2 separate regions of the Homo sapiens genome follow, and region 2 is linked to region 1. Evidence: fine-mapped expression QTL. A gene starts in region 1. The other region holds a variant in brackets. All regions are shown on one strand. Distances are from middle to middle.

Region 1 (10,522 bases):
CTCCTAGGAAAAATTTACAGCCAGGATACAAGATCAACCACCAGAAATGATTTTAAATCTACTTAATCCGTCAACAACTCACCTCTGCAAGCATGATTCTGGAAGCCAACCCAGCAGCGAAAACCCCTTGCTTGTGAAAGCAAACCACCTGGGAATGGACTGCTTCAATGAACACACCACTGAGTGCCAATCTACTAAAGTCTCACTCAAGTAACTACAGTTCTTCAGCTGACATCAACCTACTCTGCCAGTCACCAAACTCCATGCTTCTGCAGAGCTGTATTAAGATCAGTTCCCTGATCTGCTTAGAGAGACTGGGCCTGGTCAGCATAGCTCTCCCTTATATACCTAAGCAATAAATTCAGCTTTATTTTTTGTTTATTGTGATGGTCTGAATTGTGTTCTCCTGAAATTAATATGTTGAAGTTTTAACTCCTAGTACCTCAGAATGAGACTGTATTTGGGGATGAGCTTGTTAAAGAGGTGGTTAAGGTAAAACGAGGTCATGTCAGTGGGCCCTGATCCAATATGATTGATGATGTCCTTATAAGAAGAGGAGATTAGGACACAGATGCACACAGAGAAAAGACTATGTGAAGACAGGAAGAAGACGACCATCTGCTATAGCAGGACGAGCCACAGACAAAACTCCTTAGATACCGGGTTAAAGAAGGAAGGAGCTTTATTCAGCTGGGAGCTTCTGCAGACTTGCATCTCAAAAGCCGAGCTCCCTGGGAGAGAAATTCCTGCCCCCTTTAAGGGCTTACAACTCTAAGGTGGTCTACGTGAAAGGGTTGTGATCGATTGAGCAAGCATGGGGTATGGGACTTGGGCTGCATGCACCGGTAATCAAGACAGAGCAGAACAGAACAGAACAGAAAATTTCACAATGCTTCTTCACACAATGCCTGGAATCTATGGATAATACAAGCAGTTAGGTCAGGGGTTGATTTTTAACTACCAGGCTGGAGGTGCTGCAGTGGGCTGTCTGACTATTGATCTTATTTTTGCCTTTCTGTAACTTTTGAATTCTCTTTCTTTTTCTGAGGTATGAGACAAGGAGAGGGGGTGGTCTTCAAGTCAAGGAGGGGGACCTCAGAGGAAACCAGCCCTGTCAGCACCTTGACCTTGAACTTCTAGACTCCAGCACTGTGAGAAAATAAATTTCTGTTGTTTAAGCCATCCAGTCTGTGATATTTTGTTATGGCGGCCCTAGAAAATTAATATATTAATGTTTATTTTGGATATTGAGGTCTCTAGACACTAGAAATCAACATCAAAATTCTTACCAAATGAAGGTAATGACCCTGGACTCTGCCTGAGCACTTCTGTCTCCAAGTAACAGGCCTCAGTGCTGTGCTTGGGCTCCTGGCCCACAGGTTAGTGGTTTTCACCTGGACCTCAGGTTGGTTGCAGAGGCAGGCCACATCCTTAGGGTAGGGGATTTACCTATGGGGGCACAAATACATTCCTTAACATTTCTCGTAAGCTAATTTTAGTGGGTCTCTGCCATTTGCGATTGAGAGTACCGACTGATTGAGACATTGGTACCCAGAAGTAGAGTGCTAGAAATGAAATATCCTAAAATGTGAACTACTGTGTCAAGGTGGAGTAGGAGGCAGTGAGGCTCTCTCCATCTCCCTCCATCCCTGGGTGGGAAGTGGGCAGTCTTTATGATATGGTAATGAAGCAGCTCATTAAGATGTTATTGTAGTTTCTTTGGGATTCAGACCTGTACATACTAAGGTAGAAGCTTCAGGGAATCCAGCAGAACAAAATTAGGCTGCTCTGGTGTGAGAGGCAGTATTATATGGTGGTTCAAGAGCAAAGACTGAAATTAGACTACCTAGGTTCAAAGACCCTGTCTCCTAGCTGTGTGACCTAGGGCAAGTTACTTAATCACAATTAAGCTTCCTCATCAGGGAAATGGGAATTAAAATAGTACCTAATTAACTGGATTATTGTGAAGATTAAGGGATTTAATATATATAAAGCACTTAGAATAGGCCTGGCAATTAGAAAGCATATGGACAGGTTAACTCTTGTTGTCTTGGTTACTTCTTGTGGCTCCTGTCAAGATCCTACTAGAAAGAGATAAGCCTTGGTCTTAGATAGCTGGGAACAGCATACGGCTTTGTTAAAAGAGATCACGCTCCTCACTGCTCTCATGCCCCATCTCAGCAGACAGCAATCCAAGACTGCTTAGGGTTCGGAATTACAAAACCAAATTCCCTGCTAAGGCTAAAGTTGATCTGAACAAAAGTAAGGGCAAGGCAAAGAGAATAGACATTAGACAGGGACCTGAAAGGATCCAGAAATGGGACTTTACATCCCACAGAGGAAACAGGTAAGGTGTTTCCATACAGTGACAGAGAATAGATCAGTGGCTGCCTAGGGAAGGGGTGGAGGATGGGTGGATTTCAAAGGGTCACCCCTTTTGGGGGTGATTGAAATGTTTACCTTGATTGTGGTGATGGTTTCACAGGTGTATATATTTGACAAACTCATCAAGTTGTATACCTTAAATATGTGCAGTTTCTTGTACTCGAATTATACTTTAGTAAAGGTATAAACAAGAGAGAGCAAGAGGTAGAAGCTGCAATAGCTTCTGTGACCTATCCTTGGGAGTCACACACTCATCATTTCTGCAGCATTCTGCTGGTTACAGTGATCAACCCTGATACAACCTGGGAGGGAAATACATGGTGGTTTGCACACAGGAGGTGAGCATTGTTGGATCCATCTGGGGGATTTCTGGCCATCCCTCTATGTGGAGAGAACAGTATGTACAAGGCCTTGAGGTGGGCTGGTATTCCAGAAAGCCTTAACTGATTAACTCTACTCACCTCTGCTGAAAAGTTGACTGTTACTTGGTGCAATGGTTTTTTTTTTTTTTTTTTTTTTTTTTTTGGTTTCTTTTGTTTGTTTGTTTTGTTTTTTTAAGACAGGGTCTTGCTCTGTTGCCCAGGCTGGAGTGCAGTGACACCATCAGTCTCGGCTCACTGCAACTTCTGCCTTCCAGGCAGTCTCAAGCAATCCTCCCACTTCAGCCTCGGTGCAATGTATGTTAACATATCATCTGTCACATCTTCCAAAATTTGAGTCCCAGGTTCTCCAAAACTTCAATGGGTTAGTTAGACTAACCACTTTCAATGCCTAAGTGTTCTAATATGTCAAGTTCTCCTCTGACCTTATGCTTTGGTTTATGAAGAGTGAAATTATGAGGAGTGTCAGCATGTTTGCAAGCCAATGGGATGGAGTATGATTTAAGAAGCAAGAAAGAATTTTGTTTTTCTTAAATCTGAGACCATAAATTTCTGTTCACTCTGCTTATCTCCAAGGCTGGTCCTGGCTGGAGAGGGGAGAAAAAAGAGAAGGAGAGGAAAAAGCATTGATCAGTTTTAGAATTTTAAGAAAATATTTGCATATTTTAAGAAATTTAACCTAATTTTTTTAACTTTTTACTTTAAAATGATTATAGATTCACAGGAAGTTGCAAAGATGGAACAGACGTGTACTCTGTACCCCGTTCTCCCCACTAGTAAATTTTACATAATTTTAGAACAATAACAGAACCAGGGAATTGGTATTGGCAAAATCCACAGACCTCGTTCAAATTTCACCAGCTTTGCATGTACTCATGTGTGCATGAGTGTTTGAAGTTCTAGATTAGAATAACAACCACCACTACTAAATCATGGACAAGATATATAAAGGGAAGTTTGAAACAGAGCATTTAAGGGAGAGAGAATGAGAGCTATAAACTGCTTATGTTTAAGAGACCCAAGATACTGTGGAAATTGGCTAATCTAAACAAAATATCAATGCACTGATATGGGGAACTGCATGTGGTGAACAGTGCAGTGAGATATTCCTATTGAGGGATCCCATGAGATTACTAAAGGTAAGAAAGTAAGTTATATTTTCTTATAAATAAGACTCTAGGTAAGACCTTGTCTGCCTGAAGAATATCAGAAAACTAGACCATGACCTGAACGCTTGTAGCTGGGGTACAGCCAGGCAGGTGTAAGCCAGAGCTTGTGGAGGGAGGCTGCTAATAGATTGCAGAGCTCCTCTCCACCGTGGCCAGGTTGCAGGATTTCTGAGTAAGGGTGCTGTGAGCTTTTGGGGCAGGGCAATTCTTTGTTGGGTATGTCTTTACATAGTGCCCAGATCGTTAGCACTCTGATGACACCCTGGCTAGCTGGCACTATGGCCACTGTTCATCCAACACATTTCCAAAAGCATCTAAGGGATGTGAAAACATCCTCAATCAAAAACCACAAACCCCTTATTGTTCTTGAGGAAGAATATTCCCTCCCTAGATTCCTCAGTCCCTGTTTCCACTCACAGTTTCCACTCACTCTTTTTTTCCCCCGCCTAGGGACTGCCGATCTTGGAGGATCTGGATTTTTAAAGTTATTTTTGTATAATGCTTTTGTTATGGAAGATGGCAATTGCTTACGCACAACTGCCTTCATCTTAGCTGACCTGAATGGGCCTTAGCTGCCATGAATGGGCCTTAGCTGCCATGAATGGGCCTGACCCCAGACCATCAAAAGTGACCATTACTAAAAGGAGGGAAGGCAGGGTACCATTCTATTACATCTGGAATTAAAAATGAAGGTTACCAGTTATAGAAAAGACTTTCGGACTTTATTCAAAGCATTTTAATAATACTTAGAGAAGATTGATTTATTAAATGCTAGCAACTCTCATTTTAACATTAACTTCCGAACTTCAAGGAGGTTTTAAAAAATTGAATTTTAATTTTTAATTTTTGTGGGTACACAGTAGGTGTATATATTTATGGAGTACATGAGATACTTTGATACAGGCATACAATGTGTAATAATCACATCATGGTAAATGGGGTATCCACCCCCTCAAGCATTTATCCTTTATGTTACAAACAATCCAATTATACTCTTCTGGTTGTTTTAAAACATACAACTAAATTATTATTGACTATAGGCACCCCATTGCACTATCAAATACTAGGTCTTATTCATTCTTTCTATTTTTTGTATCCGTTAACCATCTCCACGTCCCCCCCAACCCTCCCACTACTCTTCTCAGCCTCTGGTAACTATCCTTCTACTCTCTATCAAGGAGGTTTAAATTTCAAGGAAAGGAGAATTCAATCAACGTGGGCTTATTGCTTCTCATGTCAACACTAAGCTATGTATTCCAGACTCTTCAAAAGAAGCATCAGATTTGCTACTTTATTTCAAGGATTCTAAAGTTCCATTGGAACAATACTATATTAACCCTGAAAATAATTAAAAAACAATTTCAGATATAGTTCAGAAGTAATTGTGAAAAGAGGTGAGATTAGGGAAAGATGACTCTGAGTCCAGATAACCCCAAAAAGCTTTTTAGAGAAGGATGAGGGTGGGGAGGCAGGTAGGGGGTTTATAATAGGATTTAAAAAGAGAAGGAAGAGCTATTTAAGGAAATTTGATTACTGCAAGTAACATTCTTCAAAACATTTAAAGAAAAACAAAAGTTTGGCAGGCAAGACTAGAAAAAGAAAACAACACTGGGGAGGGAAGTCACTGCTTCTTTTATTTCCATGACTGTTTTAAAGTCATATTTAGTTTCAGCCAAGGAAGAGCCTTTGACATCAGAGCACACAAAGTACTCTAGGAAATGAAGAGGATGAAAGTTCTACTGCATCAACGCCCAGAACTTTCTCCATTTGGCCACAGGTCGTTCTCATACATGGCCTAGTTTCTATGCACTCTAACTGGGTCCCTCTGAGGCTTGTGAATGGAAAACCCTCTTGCTTTCAAATGCTTGAAAACAAGAAAGATGCTACTATTGATGCCTCAAATACATGTAGGTATTTAGTGGGAAGCAATTAAATGTTTTGAAGGTCATTTCAAACGGAAATTAATCAAAAACAGTATTTTACTCTTTTGTGTATTAGAGTAGGCAAGACCTTGGTGTTTTCATTACATTCTCTGTTTTTATTTGCTGTTTACATTAGGATGTGAATAATGGCTTGGGTAAGGGGAGGATTTGGTACCAACCTAGGCTTTGGTTGCCAAACAGACACCAGAGTAAATTTGTGTGTGGTCAGAATCAGGTTGTAAGGTGCCAACACAGCACATGGCTTCAGTCTTTTTTTCTCTAATTGTAAAAGGACCTTGTCCCCATGGAGGGACCATTGCCTTGGCTTGTGGGGTCTTGAGTGATAGCCACAGTCTTTCTTCAGCACTTTCTCGACCTCATGAAAAGATACTGAAGCTTGAAAAGGGGATGTTCTTTCTGAATAGGAATGGAGAAGAGGGGCCAAGCAAGAATGATTCTATCTGTCTCCTGGCCGTTGATAGTGTCCCTGTACAGAGAGGAAATAACGTAGTATAATATGTAGCTTATGTTTGAATCAGCTTCTTTAAAAATACTGGAATTTTATTTATTTATTTTTGGTAGACACAGGGTTTCCTCATGTTGCCCAGGCTGGTCTCGGACACTTGAATTCAAGCAATCTGCCGGCCCCGCCGGGTGTGCCGCATGAGGGCGCGGGCCGCCCAAGGACCGCGAGTGGGGCCGCGAGTGCTGAGCCCGGCGCGCCCGAGCCGCTCCTCCTCCCGGCCTGCTCCCTGGGCGGAGCCGGGGCAGTGCGGCTCTGGGCTGGCCGAAGGGGTGGCGCTGCGATCCCGCAGGGCAGCGACGCGACTCTGGTGCGGGCCGTCTTCTTCCCCCCGAGCTGGGCGTGCGCGGCCGCAATGAACTGGGAGCTGCTGCTGTGGCTGCTGGTGCTGTGCGCGCTGCTCCTGCTCTTGGTGCAGCTGCTGCGCTTCCTGAGGGCTGACGGCGACCTGACGCTACTATGGGCCGAGTGGCAGGGACGACGCCCAGGTGAGGACCGGCCAAAGCCTCTCCCGAGTGGGAGGCCGGGCTCGGAGCTGCCGAGGCGTGTCCGGGTCTCCGGGGGTTCTGCAGTGATCCCGGGTCCTTTGTGGGTTGCGTGGAGCTTCCCGAAGGCCCGGCTGCCCCTTACGCAGGGGCTGCGGGTTGGGGAGGAAGAGGCGAGGGCTAAAAAGCCCCTTTGTCTTCTGTACTGGTCGGAAGATGGCATGGACTTGCCATTCAGGCTAGGAAACCTCTCCAGGGAGTGCCAAACTGTTAAGAGAGCACTGGAGTCGGCGGTGCTCCTGAGGACTCTGACATCTTACGCAGGACTCAAGGGATTCTGGTGTTGTCTCAGAGGACGATACTTTGAGAAACAGTGAGCGTCCCCCTGCGTTTGTAAGGGAAACTCCTTTGTAAGTACCGGAAGCCCGGTCGTTCTACTACCTGAAGTAGTCTGTCCTCCACTTCCCACTCCTGCAGTTTTGAAATAAAATCTGAGATAATCCGAAGTCCTTCACCTACTTACTCATTCTAGTCAAACACTAGAAAGAACTAAAAATGGCAGTTTGCTGGAGCGAGATCATTATTGGCATACTGCCTATCTCACTTTATCTGTGTCTTGCTTAATATTTGACATCGTGTACATTTGCTGTATGTTGGCTCAGCGCTTTACACACATAACATTTAACTTTTACAACAACTCTTACAAGGTAGGCATTATTAATCTTATTTTCCAGATAGGGAAACTGATGTTCAGAGAAATTAAATGACCTACCGAAAGCTAGGCTTTGGATCCTTAAGGACTTGGGGAAATGGGGTTTCCCTGGACCAAGTTTCTGGTATAAAAATACTCAAAGCATGTTACAAAGTTTGCTTGGAAGAGATAGTAGCTCGAAAGATAGACTATGTTTGGGGGGGGCGTTATGGGTTGGGCGTTGAGGGGGGTGATATTGATCCCAAGGTGAGAATTGGTTCCTGTGGACAAAAAAAAAAAAAAAAAAAAATCTGGTAATACAGTGGTTTGTGCCCCTCCAAAGCTTAACCCCACCCGAGAAAATATTATTCCTTAGTATTTCATTTTTCTGGTTGGGTTTTCTTGGGTATAGCATGTGCAGCACTGACATTGAGTTCACGAAAAATACACAACATGGACGCCACAGCAGTGCTACAAAACTATGGCAAGTGATTGGGCTTTCTCCTTTTAAAGCAGGAATCCCAAATACTGCACAACTTCATTAACCAAGGGCTTTCTCTTGATCGATTGTTCCACCTCAGCGGGGGAATATGTGTGCCTATTGGCTGCCATTGGCTGCCTTGCAGACGTTGTTTGTGTTTGATCTTTAGTGCTTTTGTGTTCACTTGGACTTGGAGAATTAAACGAAAATAGATTATATTTTATTATTTAATCCTACAAAAAATATTCAACCCATCAAATTATGTCAAGTGCTAAAAAGCAAAATTATTGACAACATCTGAATGAATATCTCTAAGCTACTAAGTTAAAAGTTATTTTCTCATATTAAGGAAAAGTTAAAAGTTAAGATCATTGAAAATTTTAAGAAATTCATTTAATATTTTCAGTTGTGTTTTGTCGGAAAAGAACAGTTTGAAGGATTTTAAATTTAATTACATTGTTATCATTATGTAGTTATATAATTTGCAAATTTGCACATGTAGTTTGATAAATTGCTATTTATCTAAGTAAGTTACATAAAAGTTATTCAGCAAAAATCTGGCGTGGTGGCATGTACCTGCAATCCCAACTACTCTGGAGGCTAAGGTAGGAGGGTCATTTGAGCCCAGGAGTTCAAGACCAGCCTGGGCAGCATAGTGAGACACTGTCTCAAAAACCATAAAAATGTTTTTCAGCAAATACAGTTATAAAGTTAGAAGTTAATAACTTTTAAATTTTAATTTAACATTTAACTTAATTTTAAAATTTAGTCATATGCTTATTTAGTCATATGCTTATTAACTAAGGAGTAAGCTTTTTTTCTTTTTCTTTTTTTTTTTGAGACAGAGTCTCGCTCTGTTGGCCAGGCTGGAGTGCAGTGGTATGATCTTGGCTCACTGCAACCTCTATCTCCTGGGTTCAAGTGATTCTCCTGCTTCAGCCTCCCTAGTAGCTGGGATTACAGGTGCGTGCCACCACGCATGGGTAAGTTTTGTATTTTTAGTAGACCTGGGGTTTCGCCATGTTGGCCAGGCTAGTCTCAAACCCCTGACCTCAGGTGATCCACCCCGCTCTGCCTCCCAAAGTGTTGGGATTACAGGCATTAGCCACTGCGCCTGGCAGGAGTAAACTTTATAGAACTCCTTTTATGTATAAAGCACAGATATATGTACAGTACATAAATGATATACAGTATATCTGTGGAATTAACATTTCACAGGAGAGTTTTAGGGGAAAAAAAAGTCTAAAAAGACTCCTGGTGGAGGTAGGGAGTGAGAAAGAAGAAAAGATTAAAGGAAAATTGAAATAGACTCAGATTCCCAAAACAGCTCAGACTGGAGAGATGGGCAGACTCTATCAAGATGAAAAAAGAAAAAAAAATCCTTCTTGACTTCTCTGTAGGTTTATTATTTTTTGTCACTTAAAAAAATAGCACACTCACATAATACAAAAGTAAAAATACAAAAAGATATATAGTAAAAAGTAAAGAGCTTTCTCTGACCCTTGTGCCCTAGCTACCTAGTGTGCTTCTCTCGAGGCAGCCACCATTTCCTGCCTCCTCTGTATCCGTCTAGAGAAATTCTGTGCATTTCCAAGCATATATCTCACATGGTGATTTTTTTTTTTTTTTAATAGAGAGACAAGGTCTTGCTTTGTCACCCAGCCTGGAGTGCAGTGGCATGATCATAGCTCACTGCAGCCTCGAACTCCTGGGCTCAGGCAATCCTCCCACCTCAGCCTCCCCAGTAGCTAGGACTACAGGTGCAAACCACCACACCTGGATATTTTTAAACTTTTTGTAGAAACAGGCTCTCACTATGTTCCAGGCTGGTCTTGAACTCCTGGCCTCAAGTGATCCTTCCACCTTGGCCTCTCAAAGTGCTAGGATAACAGATGTGAACTGCCAAGCCCAGCCACATATGGTGAAATTTAAGGGTGACTAATTTTAGACATTAAAATGGTCCAGAAAAATCCATGGCACAAGTCTAGAGGAGGAAAAATTTCAACAGCAGCACATGTGAGCAAAACTCAGGTTTTTGTTAACAGTAACCTCAATAGGAGTCAACTGTGAAGTGGCTGCCAGAAAAGATCAGGCAACCTTGGGTTGCATTTGTAGACCTCAGTGTCTGAAGCAACAACTGCAAACAACAGATGTCTCCTGACTAGCTGCTTGTATGTGCCGGCCTCTGTGCTGGGGCACTGGGGACACTGCAGTGACTGAATCAGCCACAGTCCAGGCCCTCATAGACCCTACCTTCTGGGGGACAAGGGAAGTGATTTTTGACATCTCATCCTGCTCTGCACTGTCCAGACCCTACCGAATCCTGTGTCCTGCCCTAGCCAGCTCCCTTTAATAAAGAGGAACATTAACCAACTAGAATTGGTGCAGGTGGGTGTGAGCAGAAGAGTGAGGAAACCTGATACCATGTCATGTGAGGGAAGGTGGCAGAAATTGGATAGGTTTATTTAGCCTTAGAGAAGGTAAGA
Region 2 (11,026 bases), 91 kb after region 1:
AAGAACTTGGAGTCTGATGTTTGAGGGCAGGAAGCATCCAGCATGGGAGAGAGATAAAGGCAGGAAGACTCCACCAGTGTAGCCACGCTGGCAGCTTATTAGATGGTGGCTACCCAGATTGAGGGTGAGTCTGCCTCTCCCAGTCCACCGATTCAAACGTTAGTATCCTTTGGCAACACCCTCATGGACACACCCAAGAACAGTACTTTGCATCCTTCAATCCAATTAAGTTGACAGTATTAACCACCACACTTGCTTTAGAGGTAAGACACCACAGGTTCAGATAAATTGATTATATAGATACGTAGTGAAAGATCTGTCTCGAATGGATCCTTTGACTTTCATTACAGTATTATTTAGGCTTTGTATTAAGCAGGCTAGATTCTAATCTTTTAAAAAATAATGAAACATTTGATTATTTCTTCTCTATTAGGAAATTCCTATATTTTTTAATTTAAAAAATTTATTTCAATAGTTTTGGGGGTAAAGGTAGTTTTGTTACATGGATAAGTTCTTTAGTGGTAAAGGAAATTCTTAAACATGAATTTTCTGTGGTATAGTTTACAGCTATGTGTTCTACTCATGCTTTTGATGTTTTTTATATTCTCAAGGAATTGTTAACTTCACAGCTCTCTTCTCAAGCCATTGTTCCTTTGATTCTAAGAGAGGTTGCATTGTCTTAGCTTTTAAAAATAATCTACATTATGAATTGTTTTTCAAATATCTTTCCTATCCCACTCTTATCTTGAACTGTATTTCTTCAAATATTTGTAATTTTGGGACTCAAATGATACTGACCTTATTAACTCCTAGATCTTATGATTGCACAAAGTCAGAATACTTGGTTGCAAGTGACAGAAATTCAACTCCTCCAAAAAGGATTTATTGGTTCATGTAATTGGGAAGTGCAAGAGTGCATCTTATGGCAAGAGTGCATCTGGAGACTCAAATACTGCTGTGAAGACTCTCTCTGCAGCTCTTTGTTTGCATTGCTTTATTCTTTTAGAGTCTCCCCTAGTGGCAGACAAATGGCTGCCAGACAAACTCAAATCTCCCAGTTAAGCAATTGTAATGTAGGAAATAAACCAAATAACTCTCTACCAATGTCCATATCTCAATTTCAGGTTCTGTGTGCATAATCCTATGATTAGCAGCCCCAGCACTAATGCATAGAGGAGATATTTCCCAAAGGATTCTGAAGAAAGGGGGGTGGGAAAATTAGGCAGAAAAGAAGAACAATTCCCATAGTCTATTATACCAATGTTTCCCCACCTTATAGTGAAGCAACTTTTTAAAAAATTCTAGGTACATTACAAACCAATGTTTCTGTCCATTTAAAATCATTTGATGTACTGCATGTTTGTCTCTTTTTGGCTGTGCAGCATTTGAATCCCTGTCCTTTCTGGAATTTTCCACTGTGAGAGCTTTAGTGGGAAGGCAGGCCACATCCCCCATCACAGATGTTAAAAAATACATGTGCTTTTATTTAATTATTTTTTTGCTGTGAAGGTATTATTATTGTTATATTTTTTAATATACTGTAGTTCTGGTGCAGGTTTGTAACATAGGTATACATGTGCCATGGTGGTTTGCTGCATCCATCAACCCATCATCTACATTAGATATTTCTCCTAATGCTATCCCTCCACTTGCCCCCCACCCCACAACAGGCCCCAGTGTGTGATGTTTCCCTCCCTGTGTCCATGTGTTCTTATTTTTCAGCTCCTGCTTACGAGTGAGAAAATATGGTGTTTGGTTTTCTGTTCCTGTTTAAGTTTGCTGAGAATGATGGTTTCCAGTTTCATCTGTGTCTCTGCAAAGGACATGAACTCATCCTTTTTAAAGGCTGCATAGTATTCCATGGTGTATTTGTGCCACATTTTCTTTATCAAGTCTGTCAGTGATGGACATTTGGGTTGGTTCCAAGTCTTTGCTATTGTGAACAGTGCCGCAATATGTGCATATGTCTTTATAATAGAATTATTTATAATCCTTTGGGAATATACCCAGTAATGGGATTGCTGGGTCAAATGGTATTTCTGGTTCTAGATCCTTGAAGAATTGCCACACTGTCTTCCACAATGGTTGAACTAATTTACACTCCCACCAACAGTGTAAAAGCATTCTTATTTTTCCACATCCTCTCCAGCATCTGTTATTTCCTGACTTTTTAATGATCACCATTCTAACTGGCATGAGATGGTATCTCATTGTGGCTTTGATTTGCATTTCTCTAATGATCAGTGATGATGAACTTTTTTTCATATGTTTGTTGACTGCATAAATGTCTTCTTTTGAGAAGTGTCTGTTCATATCCTTCACCCACTTTCTGATGGGGTTGTTTTTTTTTTTGTAAATTTGTGTAAGTTCCTTGTAGATTCTGGATATTAGCCCTTTGTCCAATGGATAGATTACAAAAATTTTCTCCCATTCTGTAGGTTGCCTGTTCACGCTGATGATAGTTTCTCTTGCTGTGCAGAAACTCTTTAGTTTAATTAGATCCCAGTAGTCAATTTTGGCTTTTGCTGCCATTGCTTTTGGTTTTTTAGTCATGAAGTCTTTGCCCATGCCTATGCCCTGAATGGTATTGCCTAGGGTTTCTTCTAGGATTTTTATGGTTTTAGGTCCTACGTTTAAGTCTTTAATCCGTCTTGAGTTAATTTTTGTATAAGGTTTAAGGAAGGGGTCTACTTTTAGTTTCCTGCATATGGCTAGCCAGTTTTCCCAACACTATTTATTAAATAGGGAGTCCTTTTCCCCATTGCTTGTTTTTGTCCAGTTTGTCAAAGATCAGATGGTTGTAGATGTGTGAAGTTATTTCTGAGGACTCTGTTCTGTTCCATTGGTCTATATCTCCGTTTTGGTACCAGTACCATGCTGTTTTGGTTACTGTAGCCTTGTAGTATAGTTTGAAGTCAGATAGCGTGATGCCTCCAGCTTTCTTCTTTTTGCGTAGGATTGTCTTGGCTATACAGGCTCTTTTTTGGTTCCATATTAAGTTTAAAGTAGATTTTATAATTCTGTGAAGAAAGTCAATGGTAGCTTGATAGGGATAGCATTGAATCTACAAATTATTTTGGGCAGTATGGCCATTTTCACGGTATTGATTCTTCCTATCCATGAACATGGAATGTTTTTCCATTTGTTTGTGTCCTCTCTTATTTCCTTGAGCAGTGGTTTGTAGTTCTCTTTGAAGAGGTTCTTCATATCCCTTGTAAGTTGTATTCCTAGGTATTTTATTCTCTTTGTAGCAATTGTGAATGGGAATTCACTCATGATTTGGCTCCCTGTTTGTCTATTATTGGTGTATAGGAATGCTTGTGATTTTTGCACATTGATTTTGTATCCTGAGACTTTGCTGAAGTTGCTTATCAGCTTAAGGACATTTTGGGCTGTTGATTGGGTTTTCTAAATATACAATCATGTCATCTGCAACCAGAGACAATTTGACTTCCTCTCTTTCTATCTGAATACCCTTTATTTCTTTCTCTTGCCTGATTGTCCTGGCCAGAACTTCCAATACTATATTGAATAGGAGTGGTGAGAGATGGCATCCTTGTCTTGTGCTGGTTTTCAAAGGGAATGCTTCCAGCTCTTTCCCATTCAGTATGATATTGGCTGTGGGTTTGTTATAAATAGCTCTTATTATTTTGAGATACGTTCCATCAATACCTAGTTTATTGAGAGCTTTTAGCATGAAGGGGTGTTGAATTTTATCAAAGGATAAATGCACCAATAACAGACAAACAGCCAAATCATGAGTGAACTCCCATTCACAATTTCTTCAAAGAGAATAAAATACCTAGGAATCCAACTTACAAGGGATGTGAAGGACCTCTTCAAGGAGAACTACAAACCACTGCTCAGTGAAATACAAGAGGACACAAACAAATAGAAGAACATGCCATGCTCATGGATAGGAAGAATCAATATCGTGAAAATGGCCATACTGCCCAAGGTAATTTATAGATTCAATGCCATCCCCATCAAGCTACCAATTACTTTCTTCACAGAATTGGAAAAAACTACTTTAAAGTTCATATGGAACCAAAAAAGAGCTCGCATTGCCAAGACAGTCCTAAGCCAAAAGAACAAAGCTGGAGGCATCACACTACCTGACTTCAAACTATACTGCAAGGCTACAGTAACCAAAACAGCATGGTACTGGTACCAAAACAGAGATATAGACCAATGGAACAGAACAGAGCCCCTGGAAATAATATCACACATCTACAACCATCTGATCTTTGACAAACCTGACAAAAACAAGCAATGGGGAAAGGATTCCCTATTTAATAAATGGTGCTGGGAAAACTGACTAGCCATATGTAGAAAGCTGAAACTGGATCCCTTCCTTACACCTTATACAAAAATTAATTCAAGATGGATTAAAGACTTAAATGTTAGACCTAAAACCATAAAAACCCTAGAAGAAAACCTAGGCAATACCATTCAGGACATAGGCATGGGCAGGGACTTCATGTCTAAAACACCAAAAGCAATGGCAACAAAAGCCAAAATTGACAAATGGGATCTAATTAAACTGAAGAGCTTCTGCACAGCAAAAGAAACCACCATCAGAGTGAACAGGCAACCTACAGAATGGGAGAAAATTTGTACAAATCTGACAAAGGGCTAATATCCAGAATCTACAAATAACTTAAACTTACAAGAAAAAATCAAACAACTCCATCAAAAATTGGGTGAAGGATATGAACAGACACTTCTCAAAAGAAGACATTTATGCAGCCAACAGACACATGAAAAAATGCTCATCATCACTGGCCATCAGAGAAATGCAAATCAAAACCACAATGAGATGCCATCTCACACCAGTTAGAATGGTGATCATTAAAAAGTCAGGAAACAACAGGTGCCGGAGAGAATGTGGAGAAATAGGAACACTTTTACACTGTTGGTGGGACTGTAAACTAGTTCAACCATTGTGGAAGACAGTGTGGCGATTCCTCAAGGATCTAGAAGTAGAAATACCATTTGATCAAGCCATCCCATTACTAGGTATATACCCAAAGGATTATAAATCATGCTCCTATAAAGACACATGCACACGTGTGTTTATTGCAGCACAATTCACAATAGCAAAGACTTGGAACCAACCCAAATGTCCATCAATGATAGACTGGATTAAGAAAATGTG[G/T]CATATATATACCATGGAATACTATGCAGCCATAAAAAATGATGAGTTCATGTCCTTTGTAGGGACATGGATGAAGCTGGAAACCATCATTCTGAGCAAACTATTACAGGGACAGAAAACCAAACACCGCATGTTCTGACTCATAGGTGGGAAGAACAATGAGAACACTTGGACACAGGATGGGGAACATCACACACAGGGGCCTGTTGTGGGGTGGGAGAAGGGGGAGGATATAACATTAGGAGATATATCTAATGTAAATGACGAGTTAACGGGTGCAGCACACCAACATGGCAGATGTATACATATGTAACAAACATGCATGTTGTGCACATGTACCCTAGAAGTTAAAGTATAATAATAATAAATAAAAATAAAAAAATTTTAAAAAATCTCTCAGCATTTGCTTGTCTCTAAAGCATTTTATTTCTCCTTTGCTTATGAAGCTTAGTGTGGCTGAATCTGAAATTCTGGGTTGAAAATTCTTTTCTTTAAGGATGTTGAATATTGCCCCCCTAACCCCTTGTAGGGTTTCTGCAGACAGATCTGCTGTTAGTCTGATCGGCTTCCCTTTGTGGGCGACCTGACCTTTCTCTCTGGCTTCCCTTAACATTTTTTCTTTCATTTCAACCTTGGTGAATCTGAAGATTATGTGTCTTGGGGCTGCTTTTCTTTGTGGTGTTCTCTGTATTTCCTGAATTTGAATGTTGACCTGTCTTGCTAGGTTGGGGAAGTTCTCCTGGATAATATCCTGAAGGGTGTTTTCTAACTTGGTTCCATTCTCCCCATCACTTTCATGTACACCAGTCAAATGTAGGTTTAGTCTTTTCACATAGTCCCATATTTCTTGGAGGCTTTGTTCATTCCTTTTTATTCTTTTTCCTCTAATCTTGTCTTCATGCTTGATTTCATAAGTTGATCTTCAATCTCTGATATCTTTTCTCCCGCTTGAACAATTCAGCTATTGATACTTGTGTATGCTTCACAAAGTTCTTGTGCTGTGTTTTTCAGCTCCATCAGGTCATTTATGTTCTTCTCTAAACGGTTATTCTAGTTAGCAATTCCTCTAACCTTTTTTCAGGGTTTTTAGCTTCCCTGCATTGGGTTAGAATATGCTCCTTTAGCTCAGAGGAGTTTGTTATTACCCACCTTCTGAAGCCTACTTCTATCAATTCCTCAGACTCATTCTCTGTCCAGTTTTGTTCCCTTGCTGGCAAGGAGTTGTGATCCTTTAGAGGAAAAGTGTTCTGGTTTTGGGAATTTTCAGCCTTTTTGTGCTGGTTTTTCCTCATCTTTGTGAATTTATTTACCTTTGGTCTTTATCTACCTTTGGTCTTTGATGTTGGTTACCTTCAGAGGGAGTTTCTTTTTGTTGATGATGATGCTATTCCTGTTTGTTTGTTTTCCTTCTAACAGCCACACCGCTCTGCTGTAGGTCTGCTGGAGTTTGCTGGAGGTCCACTGCAGACCCTGTTTGCCTGGGTATCACCAGCGGAGGCTGCAGAACAGCAAAGATTGCTGCCTGTTCCTTCCTCTGGAGGCTTTATCCCAGAGGGGCACCCGCCAGATGCCAGCCAGAGCTCTCCTATATGGGGTGTCTGTCTACCCCTGCTGGGAAGTGTCTCCCAGTCAGGAAGCACAGGGGTCAGGGACCCACTTGAGGAGGCAGTCTGTCCCTTAGCAGAGCTTGAGCACTGTCCTGGGAGATCTGCTGCTCTCTTCAGAGCCAGCAGGCAGGAATGTTTAAGTCTGCTGAAGCTGCGCCCACCATTGCCCCTTCCCCCAGGTACTCTGTCCCAGGGAGATGGGAGTTTTATCTATAAGCCTCTGACTGGGGCTGCTGCCTTTCTTTCAGAGATGCCCTGCCCAGAGAGGAGGCAGTCTGGCTACAGTGGCTTTGCCGAGCTTTGGCAGTTTTGACTTTCTGACAGTTTTGTTTACACCGTGAGGGAAAAACCACCTACTCAGTCCTCAGTAATGTGTACACCACTCTCCCCACCAAGCTTGAGTGTCCCAGGTTGACTTCAGATTGCTGTGCTGGCAGCGAGAATTTCAAGCCAGTGGATCTTAACTTGCTGGGCTTCATCGGGGTGGAATCCACTGAGCTAGATCACTTGGCTCCCTGGCTTCAGCCCCGTTTTCAGGGAAGTGAACGGTTCTGTGTCGCTCTCATTCCAGGCACCACTGGGGTATGAAAAAATAACTCCTGCAGCTAGCTAGGTGTCTGCCCAAACGGCCTCCCAGTTTTGTGTTTGAAACCCAGGGCCCTGGTGGTGTAGGCACCCAAGGGAATCTGCTGGTCTGAAGGTTGCAAAGACTGTGAGAGAGGCCTGTATCTGGGCTGGAATGCAGTGTTCCTCAAGGCACGGTCCCTCAAGGCTTCCCTTGGCTAGGGGAGGGAGTTCCCTGACCCCTGCGCTTCCCTGGTGAGGCAGTGCCCCACCTGCTTCTGCTTGCCTTCCATGGGCTGCACACACTGTCTAACCAGTCCCAATGAGATGAGCCGGGTACCTCAGTTGGAAATGCAGTAATCACCCACCTTCTGTGTTGATCTTGCTGGGAGCTACAGACTGGAGCTGTTCCTATTTGGCCATCTTTCCAGCCACCCCCTGCTTTTCTTTAATAACTAAAGTTTGTGGCGGGCAACCTAAGTTTAGCTATCTTCTTCCTGGGCCTTTCAGTGTAGAACATGGGAAGCAAAGAAGCAGGAATATTTAGAATTCATTTTGATGGCAACAGAAACATCAAGGCCTTATTGCACTCATCTAGTGGCACCCATGCCTGTGGCAGCAGCATGGCACTGGCACCATAATTAAGGTGATCCTGTGACATGATACTGTCTGGGGTATTGACCACTATACTCCGCTTGTTCTCATTCTATGAGCCTGGTTTTTCAGCCTTTCTGTTCTGTGAACTATCCTATGAGCTATATCCAGAGTAATGTTCTTTTGCTTGCAACAAAAGCCACTGAGTGATACTCTCCGCTAATAATTTTTAGCCAAGATATTTTGAGGTACAATTATTTTCTCTAAGATGCTAATAATTGGTGAATTTAAGTATGATTTCTTTTTCATCTTAATGTATTTAACAGCTTCAAATTCTAGAGTTTATTCTTTCATGACCTCCTTTTTATACTGACATTAAACCACTTTCAGTGACTTTCTTTTATGACTCATTCAGAACCAATTGCTGCTTTCATTTTGCCATTATCCCATTTATGCTCTTCCATAAAATCTACTTTTGTTCTTTGCTTTTTCATTTCTCGTTAAGTTGTATCTTTCTGCTATAATTTTAGTACAAAAGTCCTTCACATCTCTTTTCTGGGAACATTCCTGTATCAGTTAGGATTAGGTTGTACTTCTTGTAACAGAGAAACCATAATAACAGTGGTTTAACCGATATAAACTTACTTCTTGCCGTATAAGTTAATTATTCGAGGGTCAGAATGGCAGTTCTATGGGCTAGTGGGACAGTCCCATTTATTATGCTGTCATCTTTAAGGTCTTTTTCCTCCTGGTCCAGCCAGACTTCCTCCATCATAATCTTTTCCCAAGCTACAGTATGAATGGAAGGGAAATTTTTCTTCCTTTCCTTTTTAAGAAGACTTCCAGTAAGTTTCCATACCACACTACCACATATAAGTCATTTGCCAAAACAAAGGGCCACATTTGACTGCAAGAGAAGCACTATTCCTAGCTAATAATCAGGGTTCTTTTACTAAGGGAGAATGACAGAACAGGCCCGGGAGGCAATTGGCTGTCTCCTCCACAATTTCTACTTCTTTTGACTATCTCTAAGTAATTTACCATCTTTCTAGATAAAACAGTTTATTTTGTGTTTTGGGACTAATTTGTAAATTTTTAGTTCAACTAATAAAAATTTAGTTCAACTAGTAAAAATTTGGAACAAAAATGATCCTAATATAATACATATTTTATTTAATAATTATACAGTTTTTATCGTATTGTTACACTCATTCTAATTGCCTGAATAAAGTGGTTTTCTTACAAAAATTCCCACTTAGTTATTTTCAAGATATGATGGCTTCAAAATGAGTTTAAATTCTTACTTATAAAAGGAATGTATATTTTTAAAGTAAACTAATTTATATTACTTTTAGATTGTGATATCAAAATAAAATATGGAAGATTCTGAAGACTTTCCAGAATTTGTGAAGAATGTGTGAAATAAAATGGTGGTTGGGCTCACTCCCTTATACTTTTGCTTCTACACCAGTAAAATAACCCTTGAATCAGGATCATTGTCAATAATTTATATTTCAAAATTTAAATTCTTGTTTTTAAAGAAATAATTTTGAACATGCAGAAAAGTTTTAAATATGGTGATTTCCTCACCCAGCTTTTCCTAATGTTAACATTTTATATAGCAATGATTGAAACTTAGCAATTAACAGTTATACTGTTAACTAATCTATGGACTTTATTTGAATTTCAACAGTTTTCCCACTAATGCCCTTTTTTTGGTTCAAGATCCAATCCAAGATCTTGTATATTATACTTAGTTATCATGTTTCTTAGATTCCTCCAATATGACTTCCTCAGTCCTTATCATGCAATGCCCTTGATCTTTTTAGACTCCTTTTGGCCAGACTTATTGGCCGATTATATTGTGGAATGTCCCTTAGTTTGGGTTTGTCTGATATTTTCTCATGATCAGATCATTCTCATTCTCATGATCATGTGGTATTTTTGGCAGGAATACTACAGAATGATTTTGTGCCCTTATCAGTGCATCATATCAGGATATTGATATATCTTATTTTTTGGTGATATTAAATTTGATCTCTTGGTTAAGGTGTTTATCAGTTTTTTCCACTGCACAGTTAATATTTTTTTCTATTTGTAATTAAAAAGTATCTTGTAGGGAAATTCTTAGAGACCATGCAAATACCCTGTTTATACTGTCATCTACTAATTTTAGTATCCATAGATGATTCTTAACCACAGCAATTATTACTTTGGTGTTTTCCATAGTCATCAATATTCTTTACATGTTTATTGAATACAGAAGAAAATTATGTTCATTAAAAACATCTATAAATGTGAACTTGAGGAAATTCTTTTGATTAGTAGGTTAAAGATACAGCCAAGAAGTTCTGTGAAAGTTACAGGAAAAAAAATGTGTTTAAATGTTAAATTATTTGTGGCATTTTTAACGTCAATTGAGAAGAGCACAGTTATATGATCCAGCTATCTCTATTTATTTGTGGGGTATGATTCTTAATGGGACCAAAGACCTCCGGTGTTCTAATCCCACTTTTCTCTTTGTTCAGAATAAATCTTCTTGGCCCATAGCCAGGTATAGGGAGTGCTATCTAAGCAACGATAAACTAGAACTCTCTCAATCCCAGTTGTTTTGTTTTGCTTTGCTTTTTTATGAAACTAAAAATATAGCTCCCAGAATTCAAGTCTGTTTCCATGTTGCACGTCACAACTCTAACCTGACATTAACATCTTGCTGTAAACGAGGTGTCAGGTGTCTAGGCTTAAACCAGAAGACTAATGGATTATAAAAGAAAACAATTAGATATTTCAGTTTTACATTGCTAGTTTTTCCATTTTAATTTAAAATATAATTCCCCAGTATTATACATTTGTGTCACATAGGCGTTGTATGTACTAGGGTATCAGCAGGAAACAAGTGGCAGAGTCAAATGGGGCCATTGAGGAGTTTAGTGAAGGGACCACTTCAGAAGTGTGGATAGAATTAAGGAAACAGACCAGGATTAGTGAAGCATTTTATTTTTTATTTTTTGAGAGAGAGTCTCATTCTGTCACCTGGCTAATTTTTGTATTTTTAGTAGAGATGGGGTTTCATGTTTGCCAGGCCGTTCTCAAACGCCTGGTC

The links.
Region 2: its variant is fine-mapped to the expression of DHRS7 in whole blood (INTERVAL, PIP above 0.99).

The regions. Positions count from the first base shown.
Region 1 is chr14:60,161,522-60,172,043 of GRCh38, reverse strand. DHRS7 (dehydrogenase/reductase 7) reads left to right here and starts at 6,646. Exons shown (of 7, transcript NM_016029.4): 1 at 6,646-6,867. The coding sequence starts at 6,735. RefSeq lists a silencer at 6,413-6,682 and enhancers at 6,883-6,932, 7,123-7,182.
Region 2 is chr14:60,069,924-60,080,949 of GRCh38, reverse strand. The region is part of intron 1 of PCNX4-DT (PCNX4 divergent transcript); the gene reads left to right. Among named protein-coding and RNA genes, the nearest start is that of PCNX4-DT, 16 kb to the left of the region's middle. The variant G/T (reference allele first, on the strand shown) is at 5,159.